Homo sapiens: one gene and its partner. The protein of the gene in region 1 interacts with the protein of each later gene in a pairwise test. Each region holds a gene or a part of one and is shown in the gene's direction. Other genes may lie near its edges.

The links.
Region 2: the proteins of CAMK2D (region 1) and BANP interact in binary tests that used the Homo sapiens proteins (3 or more experiments, as listed by UniProt).

What each region holds. Positions count from the first base shown.
Region 1 is NC_000004.12:113,754,996-113,758,749, reverse strand, and holds part of CAMK2D (calcium/calmodulin-dependent protein kinase type II subunit delta), read left to right. Parts: intron 1-3,659; coding exon of another isoform or gene 3,660-3,709; exon of another isoform or gene 3,710-3,754. UniProt on the Homo sapiens protein: Calcium/calmodulin-dependent protein kinase involved in the regulation of Ca(2+) homeostatis and excitation-contraction coupling (ECC) in heart by targeting ion channels, transporters and accessory proteins involved in Ca(2+) influx into the myocyte, Ca(2+) release from the sarcoplasmic reticulum (SR), SR Ca(2+) uptake and Na(+) and K(+) channel transport.
Region 2 is NC_000016.10:88,031,432-88,035,185, forward strand, and holds part of BANP (protein BANP), read left to right. Parts: intron 1-1,677; coding exon 1,678-1,814; intron 1,815-3,754. UniProt on the Homo sapiens protein: Controls V(D)J recombination during T-cell development by repressing T-cell receptor (TCR) beta enhancer function. Binds to scaffold/matrix attachment region beta (S/MARbeta), an ATC-rich DNA sequence located upstream of the TCR beta enhancer.

The sequences.
Region 1 (3,754 bases):
GACTCATGTAATGTATTTTACACATGTAGTTTATAGGTACAGAGATAATTCATACTCGTAAAATAGCTGTTGACATAACCAAAAAACTTGGAGGGCTCTCACTGCATTCTTTTTATTTAGTAGAACTCATGCAAAAGTACTTACGCTGAAATGTTAGGCATTCCAATTATTGTGGGCACGTGTCTGAGGTATTTCCATGGGAATTTATGGTATAAAAATGAAATGAAAATGAACAAAATACCATAGTGTACGCTCATCTCAGTGACCTGGTTTATTTTAAGTAATGAGAGAAGAAATTCCATTAGGTTTAGTTTTCCTCATTTAATATGTCTTTTCAAAAGTGCTTCTTACCAAAATCCTGGCATCATTGCTTTCGGTCTCTGCCATGATTAGTTTTTCCATATTTATTGCAAATTCTACTTTTAACATGCATTTTAGGTTTAGGTTGGTATTTTAGTTTATCCATTCACATGGGTTGTTGTTTTAATTTCCTTCATCTGATTTTGACATGATTCTGAGAAAGATCTATAAAGTAACCAGCACCATAGAATCATGGTATGAAAACTAATGAGAAGAATATTATGTTAATTATGTTCTCTTAGTCTCTACTCCACAGAAAGGTTTTAACAATGAAAAGGAATTGCTAAACTATAAGTGACATTTTAATTTAAAAAAATGAAAATGTGTAGTTAGAATCTTTCAGTGCTTCTCTTATTTTCTTCTGTGTGCTAGATACTTTTGGCTGTGGTGGGGGTATCATTTCTTTTGAAAGCATTACAATACCTATTCCAAGATTTTTGGTGGTGTTTCTTTCAAAACAAATCAGTGTAGTGCTTCACTTTTACTAACTTTCTTAATTAGAGCCATCCCTCTTCACTCATCTGAATTTGTCCTCCCTAAATCAGAATAACAAATGTACTTATCCCTGGTCACATACATTTTACTCTCTTTTCCCTTCAATCTGTGGAGAAGAAGCCTTCTTTGGCCTGATGGAATCTTTTCTCCTTGCTACTCCACCAGTGTTTCCTTACTTGCTCATATTCTGCTTCAAAGAACTACCTACATGTCCCAAAGCTTTTTACCGCTTCTGGATGTAATGATTTTCATTATTCTACTTAGAAAAAGGAACTAGGGTGAAGAGTTAGGAGACATTCTTCTTGCCCGTTTTCTGCAATTTTTTTTCCTTGTGACTTTGGGCAAGTTTCTTAACCTGTTGTAGGTTAACGTACCTAAGAGTGAGCTGGTGGTGAAGAACATTATTAACGCTGCAACCAGAAGCTCTTGAGTTTAACTTCTGCTGCCCATACCTACTGGCTGTGTGATCTTGAGCACATTAACTAGTTTCTCTGAGCCTCAGTTTCTTCATCTGTAAAATAGCAGTAATAACAGAACCCTTCCTCATAGGGTTTTGTGTGGAATGAATGAATTAACATAGCATAGAACAGCACCTGCCCCACTATATGCAGTCAATGAATATTATCTGCTATTATTATCTAATAAAATTGTCATAATGATCAAATTAGATTACTTTTATGAAAGAACTTATAAATCCAGTGGCAGCCTTGATTTAGCTGTGAGAACTACGTTTGAATCTTTGCTCTACTACTTAGGCATAAATTTCGTTTAGTCTCTTTCCTTTTCTGGATATCAGGTTCTTCATCAGTAAAATGGGAAATCATACTCATGGAGTCTCATGGGGTGTTCTGAGGATTCAGGGAATTCAATGAGAATCATTTCTTAAACTGCAAAGTATTGTGTCAATTTTACCTCTTATTATTGTTCTCCTGAAAAATTACAGAACTTTTCCTTCAAAATGGTCAACAATTTTATTTTATATTGTCACACTAATCAGAACTGGTTGTAGAATATTTGTGCCTTTGAATGAATACGTTTGTTTAACTTGTACTCATATTGAATTATAAACTCTTGAAGAAGAAAATACCATGCTTTCATTTTTTGATACAACATTCCACAGAATTGAGAGCATAGAAGGGGCTCAGTACAGAGTAACAAGAATCAAATGTGGTTGTTAAATGACTTGTAAGAGTTAAGTACTTAATTTACTCCTAACAACAAGCAAATACTGAAAATAAATCCGTGAAGTAGTATATTAAGAGGATATGTCTTAACCTATGAAGTCTTTTAATAACACTCATTTCAGAGAAGATGATACAAATCATTTTTGCAGAAAAATTTTTAAAATAATGAATACGTTCAAAGGCAAATGTAGAAAGAATTGCAAAATAGTATGCTTGTTTTTTCTAAGGTACTGATTTTTGAGAGTTGCATATGGAAGCTTTTGTGGAGCATACTTTTTTTGTGCAAATTTTTGTTTGTATTTGAAATTCCATGACTCTGTATACCCAAGCCTTTAGTCTATTTGTTTTAAAGACCAGGCAGGTCCTCCAACTCCACTAATGTTCTTTAAATGTAACATTACAGCTGAAAAAGAAAGGGCTATTGTTAATAAATCTAAGACCATGAGGGAATTGCCAAAGATTTGGCTACATTCCTGCATAAATTTGCACATCCAACTATACTATCAACCAGGCATTTTTCTGTGCCTAGATTTTAATGGATTTCCAGCAGACAGTTTCAGTTGTATTTCCTCTCAGCTGTTAGTCATACATACCATATTTGGGGAACTCTGAGTCAATTGAAGAATTTCTTACCTTTTGTGTTAGCATGTGCGTGCATAGAACATTCATTATACTGAGCATGTAGATGGGTACACTCATATATAATTTGGCTTATTTTGAAAATAAGTAGTATGGAAGCATCTCAAGCATCTTATATTTTATATGTAATTTCTATCTTCTAAAAAGTTTTTGTTAGATGGGCATTGAGGGCATGCTTAGTAAATGTTGAATAGTGATAATAGAATTTTTGCCTTATATTTTCATGAGAATTAGAAATTACGCCATTTTAATCCCAAGCACAGTTAGATTAGTACTTAACAAAAGCCAATTTTTTTCTGCTGCTTTGATATTCTGTTTATTTATACATGTTTAGAACTGTACACTGTTGTCAAATTATATAAAGTCCAAGAAGAGCTGTGACTGCAGTTCAGAATCCAGTGGACTGATGGTTCTGATGGCAGATAATTTAGAAATAGTACCTGTGATTTATTTTGCATTTCAAAGCCTCGTGGTGGTAAAATATTTTATGTGGAAGTAATGGCTTCTTGACATTCATCTCCCAGTGTATTTCTTGATCGTTAGAAACCATTTGACTATTACATAGATTCTGATGTGTCACAGTCACTGTTTTTGTAAAATATAATACATTATAGTATAGGGTTAAAAAATAAGTTATTACAACTGTATTTTACCTCTACTCCATTGCTAAAGTTAAAAGGGATTTCATTTTATATTTCTGTAAAACTTCAGGCTTAATCAGTTAAGTCATTTTGATATTCTTTGATTTTACTAGTTTTATTAATTCCTAAATTGGTGATATTAGTAGTACATGAATCAGGACTTTATAAAACTACTTGACCATGTATGCAAAATTAGGCCTCATCTATAAAATCTAAATGTTTTGTGTGTGTGTGTGTGTGTGTGTGTGTGTGTGTGTATCCCTAAGTAACCTTTTTTGATGTTGTAAAAGGGATGTTAAAAACTAATTCTTGCTACTTTTCTTTTATTTTTGGCTTCCAGGCAGTCAAGAAAGTACTGTAATTTCTCAACTTCATGGTTACTTGTCTTGAATTGGAAGTAGAACTGAGACTATGTAGATGGATTAAGTTCTGATT
Region 2 (3,754 bases), on another chromosome or scaffold:
TCAGGAGTTCAAAACCAGCCTGGCCAACCTGGTGAAATCCCTTCTCTACAAAAAAATACAAAAAAAAATTAGCCCAGCATGATGGTGGGTGCCTGTAATCCCAGCTACTTGGAAGGCTGAGGCAGGAGAATCGCTTGAACTTGGGAGGCGGAAGTTGCAGTGAGCCAAGGTCATACCACTACACTCCAGCCTGGGTGACAGAGCAAGACTCTCTCTCAAAAAAAAAAAAAAAGAAACCCAACATTTTATTGTTACTTTAAAAAATGTATTCAGTGGAATCTAGGTACTATGGCAATTTAATACCTACCATTAGCTATTGGTAAAAAATACATGGAAAGCTTTTCTCTCCCCTCCCCCGCTCTTGCCCTCCCCTCTCTTGCCCCTCCCCGTCCCTTCCCCCGCTCGCTCTGTTGCCTGGAGCTGAGTGCCATGGTGCCATCTCAGCTCACTGTAACCACCTACTCCCAGGTTCAAGTGGTTCTCCTACTTCAGCCTCCCAAGTAGTTGGGACTACAGACGCGTGCCACCACACCTGGCTAATTTTTGTATTTTTAGTAGAGACGGGGTTCACCATGTTGGTCAGGCTGGTCTCGAACTCCTGACCTGAAGTGATCTTGCCCGCCTTGGCCTCCCAAAGTGCTGGGATTACAGGCGTGAGCCACCGCGCCTGGCCCGCTTCTCTTTAATAATCAATAATTTTATGTCTTTCATTTTTCTCCTTTCATTCATATCAACATTCTACTTCTCTCACAGAATTTCATCTTACTGCTTCCCTCCCCTGTACCCCCGAGATGGAGTCTCGCTCTGTTGCCCAGGCTGGAGTGTAGTGGTGCCATTTCGACTCATTACAACCTCCGCCTCCCAGGTTCAAGTGATTCTCCTGCCTCAGCCTCCTGAGTGCCTGGGATTACAGACCCCCACCACCACGCCTGTCTAATTTTTGTATTTTTAGTAGAGATGGGGTTTCACCATGTTGGCCAGGCTGGTCTTGAACTCGTGACCTCAGGTGATCTACCTGCCTTGGCCTCACAGAGTGCTGGGATTACAGGTGTGAGCCACCGTGTCCGGACTACATTTTTATGCTTAAAAGCTTTTTAAAATTAGTCATTATAATTCTCTGCAACAAAACTACGTGTATACATTGAAAATTAAAAAGTTTTTCTGCGCTCTTAATATTCTGAGAGTTTAAGAAAATTATGATTGAGACATCATTACAGTGAAAATTAATACACAGTACATCAAAGCAAATGTATCTCATTTTGATTAAACACAGCAAGTAAAATTTGTTGGAAATGTATCTTTAAGTGTGCGGATGAGACTTTTGCTCTATTAGTTTAATTACCCATGGACAAATATTGCCAGCCTGAAACAGCTTTTAATGTCCACTTTAAGAACTTCATTCATTTAAATAAGTTGGGGACTAGAAGGGGTTTTGTCATAGCAGCATCACGCCACTCTCAGGCCCTTTTGCATTCCATGTCGGAAGCCTCAGTTCCTAAGACTCACTGGTAGTGATCTCTGCAGAAGAGTGGAGATGCAGTGAGTCGAGGAAAAATGAAGCATTTCCTCTTCTCTGCTGTGGGAGTCGACAGTGGGGGACGGGGGTGCACACATGCCACACCAGGCAATGCCTAAGAAACTTCTCGTTCACCCCGTTCACACCTGTTGCCCCCACAGAGCCGATGATGAGCACCCCACCTCCTGCCAGCGAGCTCCCGCAGCCACAGCCGCAGCCGCAGGCCCTGCACTACGCGCTGGCCAACGCACAGCAGGTGCAGATCCACCAGATCGGAGAAGACGGACAGGTGCAAGTAGTACGTACCCTCTCCACCTCACACCTTGGGAAAGGGGGCTGCGGGGTGGGCCACGGCAGGGCCATGGCGGCTTCCACCGGTTCCGCTGTGTTTTGGGAGCACAGTGATAGCTTGGGAGGAGGCACAAGGTCCCCATTTAAAGTAGAGGTCATCGTGGCCATGAGCTCTTAACATTTCACAGGTGGGGGCGGCTGCTGCAGAGCCTAGGGATTGAAGCACATGGTGGGGTGGGGCATTCAGTCAGCTCACCTCAGTCCTGCCAGCAGGCAGGCGGGCAGTCAGCTCCAAGGGTCAGGCCGTGCGGTGGTCCCTGCCCCAGCTCGTGCTCCTGGGAAACATCGGAAATATTTCTCAGTTCAGAAGTGCAGGCGCTCTCTTACTGAGGGAAAGAGTAATTTCCTTCTAGGATCAGTGGCAAAAGCTTGAGGTCATTGTTCCCATGCAGCGTGTCCCTTGGAGTTACTCAGCACACCCAGGTTGGGCGGGCACTGTCCCAGCAGCAAGTCAATGTCCTGCCTTGCCCGTGCGGAGTTCTCTATTGGGGTTTTGTGACCCAAGCTGTGGTCAGCCTGATGCGCCTAGGGGCTTGCTCCCGGGTGAAGTCCCTCTACAAACACCTCCTGGATTCTGTGGCATGAGAGTAGGGCGTGGCTGAGAAGGAAGGAAGACTTTTCTGGAAGCTTTGCTGAGTGACTAGAAATTTTACATGCACCACTAGACCTCGCCTATGTTTTTAGTGGCACCAGCCCCCTTGGGCCCTCTGAAGACAGGTCATCGTGTGCCTCCGTGTCACCAGGGCTTTCTCCTGGAAACATGGTCCTCCACTATTGAGAGTGGGGCGTGGCTCTCATCTCAGTGTGGCTTCAGCATGCTGTCTGGAAGAGGGAAGGCTTCCGGAAAATTCTGGGGCTTTTAGAGGGGGCGTTACCCTTCCTCTTCCAAAGGAGATGAGACAGTTATGAATAGTGAATCTTATTTAATAAGCTTATTAATTTGTTTGACATTCACAACGGCAGTTCCTCTCATCTTGTTAGTAAGAAGTTCTTTGAAAGCGTTCCAGAGTAGATAACTTTGTCATAAGGCTTACATAGAACATTCTACAGGAGTTTATTTTAAGATCCATTTCGACTAAGAGAGAATTTCAAATAAGATAAGGAGTATTCGTTTCATTTACAGGTTTATAGGAATTATTTGTCTGCCCATATGTATAAACAGTGGATTCTTTGATTTTTTTTGAATCACATTTATTAGTGTTTACTGAAACTGTCTAAATAGTCATATGAGTGTTTCTTTGATTTGAAAAACGTTGCCTGCCCTGTTGTGAGTGTAGGCACGCCAACAGCTCCCCTGCTTCAGCCACACACTGCGTAGCCTCCCAGTATCCCCAGAGAGCTGAACGTATCATTTGAAAAGAGGTGTCATTGTGATTTTCTATTTCCCCTCTTTTCTGTGTGTCATGCACATTTTAAAATTTACTTGTTTAGTAACATTTAAAGATGTAAATATCTTTCCTGGGACCTATTGCTCCTTTGTGAAGTGCTGGAAAATGTTCTGTGTTACACAGCAGCCCCCCCTTACCCATGCTTCCACTTTCCCAGGCTTTAATTACCCATAGTCAACTGTGATCTGAAAATATTAGATGAGAAACTCCAGAAATAAACAATTTGTAAGTTTCAGATTACATACTCTTCTGAGTAGTAGCATGATGAAGTCTGGTCGTCCTGCTCTGTCCAGCCCGGGACGTGAGTCGTTCCTTTGTCCAGCATGTCCAAGCTGTGTGGCACATATGGGCGGGAAAAAGCATAGCATATATGGGGTTCAGCACCATCCACAGTTTCTGGCGTCCACGTGGTGGGGGTAGGGGGTGCTTCTTGAAACCCTCATGGATGAGGGGGACTACTGTGAACCAAAAGCTTAATTTAAAGAAGTGACCACAGACT